3 separate regions of the Homo sapiens genome follow, and regions 1 and 2 are each linked to region 3. Evidence: fine-mapped expression QTL. A gene starts in region 3. Each other region holds a variant in brackets. All regions are shown on one strand. Distances are from middle to middle.

Region 1 (2,500 bases), 42 kb after region 3:
TTTTTTTTTTTTAGAGGAGAGGGTGCTGTCTTTTCATCAGATTCTCAAAGGGTCCCCTTCCACCCCAAAGGATAAAGAACCACGATGCTAAAGGATGTCCACCTAAAGGGCGACAGCTCTAGTGTGAGGGTACAAGCTTGCCATCTCACTCCCACCACCTGCCCAGGGCAGCAGGCCTGAGAGCAGGGCAGTCTTTGACAAGCCAGCAGTGCTCGTGCCAGAGGAAAACAGGGTGGGTCGTGCACCTGTGCTGGAGCAGTTACAGGCCCCACTTAGCTTATCGGCCGGCCGCTCTGCTCGGGTCTTGAGGCTCAGACCTTGTGAGCTGATAGCATCCTCCCTCTTTCCAGAGTCAACACAGCCATGGGCCCGGGAAGCTGGCAGCCATTCTCAGGAAGGGGGTCGAATGCCATGTTATCACCGGGCTGGCAGTTGTGTAGCCTTCGCCGGGACGGGCCCCTTTGGCTTGTTCTCCTTATCTTCTCTCCTCTCAAGGCCCTGCAGTGGTTATTGAGGGCAGCGGATCCAAGGGCATAATCTCCCTCCTGCCTCAGGCTCCCTGAGATCTGTAGCGAACATCCACCGTTCCTCAATGTTCCTCACCCTTCTTCAGTCTGATGTCTTAGTCCCCCAGACATTTCTTATTCATCACTGGTAGGGAGCGTTGCAGGGCCCCTGTGCCTCTAGAACCATAGGCATGGGCGAGAATGCAGACTCAGCACCTGCGGAGGGGGCTTTGGACCTGTGTCTGGCAAACATCCTTGGATTGTGACAGGGTGGGCTGAACTGCTGGGTAAGAGATGGAGACCAGCTGAGCATCGCAGGTTCGGGTATTCTATGTGGTGCCAACACCACGGAGGTCTTCAGTCCTGTGTGAGCAGAGCTTAAAGGGAAATGTCACGTTAGGGAGAGCTGCAAGGTTTCCTGCCACACACTACCAGGAGAAAGAAGCCACTTGTGTATGTGGGTACGACTAGAAAGGTGAGCCGCAGGACTAGAAGTGGTGGAATGCATTCTGGAAGGCCCATCAGGCCAGATGGGCAAGTTATCCTGGAAGTGATTGACAGCAAAATCACACCCAGGAAACTCAGAGACCTAAAGACGGCCCCGCTTCTCATTCTATGTAAAACCCGTTTCAGAAGAGAGAGAGGGAGGCCACGCTGATTATTCTTGGAAAAGGTCAGCTTGGGTGGCACCTGTTCAGACTGGATGAGGGCAGGTGCGATGGATGTGACTCAGCTCCCGACCGGCAGTATCCCAGGGAGCAGGGACAAGCAGGTCCTCAGCTCTGGTCAGAAAGCAGAGGACCCTGGACCCCAAGTGGTCTGCTGCTTTGCCTGACAACCCTGCCCATAAACTGCTTGTGAGCAGAACAAGCGAGCAAGTGTTCACCCCCTGGCATTCACAG[G/A]CACTGGTTCAAGTGGGGCAGATTTTGAAGTACGGGCTGCCAGGGCCTCAGAGGCAGGAACTTCTGCCCATTGCTGTGCTGCTGCAGCTCACAGCAGGCTGTACCCACACAGAGAACATACTCCTGGGGCTCAGGTGGGGGAACAAGGGAGGGGTCAATGTGATGAACAATTCTGGCTGAGAGAGAAGCAGGGATGGGTGGGAGGAGGATGGAGAGAGAGAGAGATGAAGGTAGGGCACCCTCTCGGAGACACAGGGCGGGCTTGTGCTCCGAGGACTCAGCTCAGAATTCAGCCCCATCTCCAGGTCACCTCAAAGCCCTAATGTTGCTGGGCTCCCCTCAGTGACACTTGCCTTCTCAGTCTCACCAGGCTATTCTGATGGCTTCTACTAATGCCCTCTGTCCTTCTGGCAGAATGTGTGGCCAGTGAGTGTCCTGGAGGGGAGGGTGAGAGTCTCCATCCAGAACTTCTCGACTGCAGAGCTGTGAACACGGAATGAGTGTGTGAGGTACGGAGGTCCTCGGCCCCAGGGGACCCCAGGTGCGCTCACAGCCTCAGGGGCGGCGGCCTTCTGCATCGCGGCATGTGGCACGCAGAGTGTCATGTGCTGTGTGTGCCACACGGTGAAACAGGTGGAGACACTGACAACAGGCTTAACTGGGAAGCTGTGCCCCAAAAGGAGCTTCAAAGAAGAGCCCCCTCCACATCCTCAGGAGAAGGACTCTTGGTTGGAAAAGGCCTGGAAGTGACCAGTATCTATGGTGCTTCGTCTCTTTCTCAGGCCCATAAGGACAGAATTTACATTTGAAAAGAAGAACAACACAGAAACTTTTGCAAAGGGCTGCCAATACTTTTTCTCTGAGGAACGTGCAATGTGATGAACAAAATTTTTTCCCAGAAAGCCAGAGGCTGGGCAAAGGCAGAGGGGCCTGGAGGCTGCTCCCAGGTAGGGAAACTTCTGGAGCAGGGACTTGACTCCACCTCCCAGGGGGACCGCATGTCCAGAGTGTGCACTTCTGGGAAGGCTGCAGAGCTGAGAGAAGCTGGTCAGATGCCCGATGCCCTAACCCTGAGATGGAGCTGCTCCCTGC
Region 2 (2,832 bases), 68 kb after region 3:
TGAGAGGTAATCACTAAGATCCCATCTGCAAATAGTGCAGTTCTCCTCTACTTGGGGGCCCAGGCTAAGCTGGTACTTCTCCACACTTTGGATGTCAGGTTTGGCCATCTGACTTGTTTAGACCAAGGAAATGTGAGCAGAAATGATATGAGTCACTTCCAGGTGGGGGCTTTAAAAGCTGGGGGTGGGGTAGAGAGGAGAGGAAGAGGGGTCAAAGAGGAAAAACAAATATCCCCGTTGGGTGTGACTGCCATAACAAGATACCATAGACTGCGTGGCTTAAATAACAGACATTTGTTTTCTCACAGTCCTAGAGGCTGGAGGTCCAAGATCAAAGTACTGGCAGGGTTGGTTCCTTCTCAGGCCTCTCTCCTCAGCTTGTAGGTGGTGTCTTCTCCCTGTGTCTCCATGTGGCCGTCCCTCTGTGAGTGTCTGTGTCTTAATCTCCTCTTCTTATGCAGACGTCAGTCAGATTGGATTATGACCCACCCATATGACCTCATTTTACTCTAGTTACCTCTTACATAGTCCCATTCTTAGATGCTGGAGATCAGGATTTCAACATGTGAATTTTTGGGGGTCATAATTCAGTGCACAATAGCAAGTGAAGCTTTATTCCCGGTGGTGGCAGCAGGCAGAGGTGTGGACAGACCTCTTGAGAATCACCAGCTTTCCATAGCCGTTCCAGCTACAGCGGTGCAAAAAAGGCCCCCTGCTGAGCTGGGTGAAATCCGGGCGACTTTGGGGATGAGCTCTGTGAGTCACCTCTTCTCACAGCCTCTTCCCGGACACTGCCTGTCCCCGCCCTTCTAAGGGTTCTGTGAACCCTTAGTTCCTGAATCAGGTCCTTTCCTTCATGGAAGACTGAGGGGGCTTCCACTTTATTGACCAAACCCAGACTGGTGCAGAGGCGACAGGTTGGAGACGCATTTGTCCTGCTCCAGGCCCAGGTACCCCTCCCAGATGAGGCCGAGAGTGCAGTGGGTGGGGGAGCAGAGGTGAGCTCCCTGAAAGCCCTCCCTCCAGGCCTAGGCCAGGACCACCTGGGTGGGTGAGTCTCCGGGAGCGAGCCAAGGAGTGTGGCTTGTCATCTCTAACTCAGGTTTCCCTTGGGACTCTGGCTGTTCTTTAGCAAATGCCCCTTAGCTTCAGTAGTCTTTGCATGGAGAAGGGAGTAAGAGAATGAGCAGTGCAGGGCTTTCTGTTTAACAAATGGCTCAGGAAATACCCTACTGTCCTGCAAAGCTGCACCAAGCCTCACTTTCCTCGTAACCATCTTGCAGGCGGGAATGTTCCTGGCAGCGAGTGGTGGATGACGGATTCTTACAGCCTGCAAACACCTTCATTTTTTTATGATTAAAAAATAAAAAATAGACAAGGGTGGGGCATGGTGGCTCATTCCTGTAATCCCAGCACTTTGGGAGGCCGAGGCAGGCAGATCACTTGAGGTCAAGAGTTTCAGACCAAGCTGGCCAACATGGTGAAACTCCATCCCTACAAAAATACAAAAATTAGCCAGCTGTGGCAGTGCACACCTGTA[G/C]TCCCAGCTACTCAGGAGGCTGACGCAGGAGGATTGCTTGAACCCATGAGGCAGAGGTTGCAGTGAGCTGAGATCCTACCACTGCACTCCAGCCTGGGCAACAGAGCCAGACTCTGTCTCAAAAAAACAAACAAAAAGAGATGAGGTCTCTCTGTGTTACCCAGGCTGGTCTTGAACTGCTGGGCTCAAGCAATCCTTCCATGTCAGCCTCCCAAAGTTCTGGGATTACAGGCATGAGCCACCATGCCTAGCTAAAACACCTTTTTTCCCTTTTAATTTTTAAAAAATTGATGTATAATAATTGTACATATTTATGGGGTATATAGTGATGTTTCTGTGCATTCCGTGTCTAGTGATCAAATCAGGGTAATTAATATCCATCACGTCAAGCATGTATCCTCAAAGAAATGATAAATGTTCCAACGCATCTGAGGTTTCTCTTCCTTAATCAATTTCCTTTGGAGACCGCCTAGCTGTCTCCCTTGCTGTTTGCTTTGAGCCTGTGAACGGGGTACTTAAAAACAGCCCTGTCTGAAACCTTCAATCTGCTGAGCAGCTCCCATCAGATAGGGTCTGGTTACCACAGGCCTGTCTGCTCTGGTCACTGCCAACTTCCTCCTCTTCTGCCTGCCTCCTTCCCCAAGTCGTCTAGGCCACAGACTTCAGGCTTAGACATGGAGAAGGAGCCAGTGGGAAGTGCTTCTGGTCTTGTTGAGAAGTCAAAAGGGTGTGTGTAAACGGAGTTTACACCCTTTCCAAACATAAGAGAGACGAGATCTCTGGGAGGCCAAGGAAGCCACAGTTTGACGTCACCAGCCATGGGTCAGGGCACCTGGCCACGCTCAGCAGGGCACCAGCAGCTAATGTGGCAGCAGGCCGAGTCTCTGAATGAAGAAGCCACACCACATCTGAACTGTCGCTCCCCCTCTCCCCATACTCTGGTCTCCACCTGTTCAGTCTTGATCTCTCCTGGACTCACCCTAGCAACCCCCAGGTCACGTGGAGACCACTGGCCATGCACCTACCTCCAGCTCCGTTGGCTCTCCCGGCCCGTTTCCTCTCGTCGTCCTTCCCTCCTGACTCAGTCTAACACTAACATTGCTCCTTTGCAAAAAACATTCACTTTTGCTGTTTCCGTTCTCTGTCACCTGCTTGGCAAATCCTATCTCCCACTGTCTGCCTGGTCTTTGTCTGTATTGGAACTTCTAAATATTGCTGAAAAAATCAATCACTCCACCAGGCTTGCTGGACACACCCCACATTTATGACCACAGCCTCAAATGGGCAATCCC
Region 3 (2,823 bases):
GCCCTGACCTTGCTTTAGTTTGTCCTCAATCTGGTCTGGTGTCTGAGCCCCGCCTCCTACCTCAATCCCACTCAAGGTGAGCTTGATATCCTCTTCCATCCACCACCAAGTTTGTGGAGAACGGAAAATAGCTCCTCATGATATGATAAGGAGTATTACAAAGGGCAGCGAGGCAGGGACAGGTTGCCTGGGTCAGCATTCTGGTCCCCCGTGGCCTTGATCCCATCTCGTCACGTCTCTGGGGGTATCGTGGTCTCGGTAATCTCAAGTCTCTTGAGATGCCAAAAGTCTGAAACCCCTACCTCCGTGGGCAGTTCGGTAGACCGCAGAACCGTAGTCATTTTAGACTGCATTAATAACACTTCAGGCGGGGAGACTACGCTGAGCAGAATGCACGGTGATCATGACCTAGTCGACATATTTCAAGGGCGCCAGAGGCAGAGCCATCTTCAGGGATCAAGTCAAGGGAGAAGCTGAAGAAAACGGGGCCTGGCTAGCCCGCTAAACAAAACGAGACAGATTTCACAAAATCACAGATTGTTAATGTCAGAAGACACCTTAGAGTTGTTTCTCCCAAACCGAAGGCGCCTGCAAGTCACTTGGGGATCCTGTTAAAATGCAGATTCCCTGGTTCGGTAGGTCTGGAGTGGGGGCTGCTTTGTCCAGAGACCACACCGTGGGTCCAACCTTCACAGCACACTGGAATCGCTTTAAGAGCTTAAAAAAATACTTAGGTCTGGGCTTCTCTATCCCCGTCCCCCCCAGCCCCGGAGATTCTGTCATTTGGTCCGGGGGCAGCCTGGGCGTTTGGAGGTTAAAAAGCTCCCAGGTGATTGCAATATGCAGCGGAGTTTGAGAACCAGCGCCTTGGACCCAGCTTCTTAAGCTACTGCGCGCACCGGCGTCCCGCTGGGGGCGCGCGAGCCCCACCCCCAGAGATGCTGACTCAGCAAGTCGGGAGGGGTTGGGGGTGGGACCTGCCAATCTGCATTTCCAACCGGCGCCCAGGTGACGCTGACTCTGCTGGTCTACCGTCTTGGGGGTCACCTAATTTTTCAGCGATGCCTCCCAGCTGGGGAGGCCAAGAAGTGCCTCGCTCAAGGTCTTCCAACACCCGACCTCCAGACCCTCAATCCTGGGCCAGCTACACCGCAAACCTTTCCAGCTGTCTCTCCTGCGCCCTGCGTTTCTTCCCCACGTCACTTGCCAGGGAGCCGCTAAACAGCAAGACCGCGCGCTCTGCGGCTCCAGAGTGCGGATTTCGGTCGCGTGCGGCTCTGACCGCGTCGCCCCATCCCTGGCGGGGCCACGCACGGACGCCATGGCTGGCGCCGCGGAGCCGGGCGATGCGCGCGGACTCTCCCGGGGCCCTGACTGTCCCTGAGTCCTCCCTGCGGGGGGCGTGCGCGGCCCGCCCCCCGCGGCGCCACGCGGCCCCTCCTCGGCCGGGGATTGGTGCGCCGGGCGGGGCGGGGCGGGGCGGGATAAAGGCGCGGGGTCTGGCTGCGCGGGGTCTGCGGGCAGCTCCAACTCTGGGTTCGTAGTTTGCGCTGGGTGCGCAGGAAGGTCAGTGTGGGGGTCGCCCGACATTTCCCCCCCGCGGAGGTGGGAGCCGAGCCACATCTTGGAGTGGGGACTGGCCGCGGAGCGGGTTGCCCAGGGCCGGCCGAGGTCGGGGCGAGCCCTGCGCGGCGCTGGAGACTCTGCATTCCCGGGCGCGCGCAGGGTCCCCGGCCGTGGTCGCAGAGTCAGGAGGGGCGGCTCCGGAGCCCGGCGCGGGGAGGGCCCAGGCGCAGTCGGGGTTGGCAGGGCGCGACACTCGCTCCCCTCCACTTTTGAAAGGGCTTCCCACGCCGAGAAGAGGGGCGGGCATGGCCGGCCCGGCGAAACCGGTTTGTACAGACTTTGGGAAGCCATCGCCTGCGGAGGGTGGGACCCCACAGCTTGTCCACCTGCCCAGGCTGAGACCTCGTGTCCTAGTCCTGGATGCCCCACGGGTTTCTCGTCCCGGGCAGCGGCGCACGGGAGGAGAAGACTCCCGGTCTGCAGTCAGACCTCCCTCTGAGACCCTCCCTAGCTCAGGCTTAGAGCTTTGGGATTTTTCTCGATCCTTTCTAGCTTTCAGATCATCCCCACGTAAAGTTCAGACTTTACCAGCCCAGAGAGTTTAAAAAAAAAAAAAGAGAGAGAGAGAAAGCGAATGTGGATTGAGCCTTTACACTGACCGCGCAGTTTGCACAGTGCTTTTCATAGATTGACTGCTTTTATTAAACGCTCTCAACAGTCTATTAGGATGGCATGGTGATTGCCCCCTTTCTGAGGACGCGGAAACTTGAGATTTGGCGAGGCAAGAAGCCAGGCGCACACAGCTAGGCGGGCCGCGGGCCGCGACCCCCTGGCTGGTCCGTGCTCTCCCCCTGGGGAGGGGTGCAGGCTGCCAGGAAAGGTGCCCCCTGCGTGGCCCTGGGGGTGTTTCTTCCTCTTTGTCTCTTCTTAGGCATCTGATCTCATCTCTTAAGTGGGAAGAGTCGGGGTGGTGGAAGTAGAGGGTATGGGACACGGTGGACCTACCTCACTTGGTAGTTAGTAACTGCCTCACCTTGGGCGGGTCAGTGGATTCTGAACAATGGGGAAAAGGTCCCAGCTTCAGGGTTGCTGTGAGGGTTTAAGAAGAGTTCAGGAAAGCAGATGCTTCACCAACGCTCCGTAGTTACCAGGCGCCTGATTTTTCCTTGGATCATTACTATTAAGAGGATGCATTGGTGATGATGATGATGTAATGAGTCAGAGGTTTTAAAGCCCAGACTGCCTTGAAAATGCGTC

Which allele goes with the higher level. Alleles are on the strand shown, and positions count from the first base shown. SD is a standard deviation of normalised expression in the study named. Not every link is listed here.
For the expression in pancreas of the gene that starts at base 1,377 in region 3, G is the low allele of the variant in region 1 and A is the other (large effect, 0.83 SD a copy in GTEx).

The links. PIP is the estimated chance that this variant, and not a neighbour inherited with it, causes the effect.
Region 1: its variant is fine-mapped to the expression of TDH-AS1 in pancreas (GTEx, PIP above 0.99). The same link has a PIP of 0.9 or more in stomach.
Region 2: its variant is fine-mapped to the expression of TDH-AS1 in amygdala (GTEx, PIP 0.97).

The regions. Positions count from the first base shown.
Region 1 is chr8:11,388,381-11,390,880 of GRCh38, forward strand. All of the region lies in intron 2 of FAM167A-AS1 (FAM167A antisense RNA 1), which reads left to right. Among named protein-coding and RNA genes, the nearest start is that of FAM167A-AS1, 21 kb to the left of the region's middle. The variant G/A (reference allele first, on the strand shown) is at 1,409.
Region 2 is chr8:11,414,592-11,417,423 of GRCh38, forward strand. The region is part of intron 3 of FAM167A-AS1 (FAM167A antisense RNA 1); the gene reads left to right. Among named protein-coding and RNA genes, the nearest start is that of FAM167A-AS1, 48 kb to the left of the region's middle. RefSeq lists enhancers at 1,899-2,400, 2,248-2,477, 2,401-2,832. The variant G/C (reference allele first, on the strand shown) is at 1,541.
Region 3 is chr8:11,346,140-11,348,962 of GRCh38, forward strand. It overlaps TDH-AS1 (TDH antisense RNA 1), which reads right to left and starts at 1,377. Exons shown (of 2, transcript NR_147705.1): 1 at 1,158-1,377; 2 at 1-501. It also overlaps the pseudogene TDH. RefSeq lists an enhancer at 1,067-1,690 and a silencer at 1,245-1,524.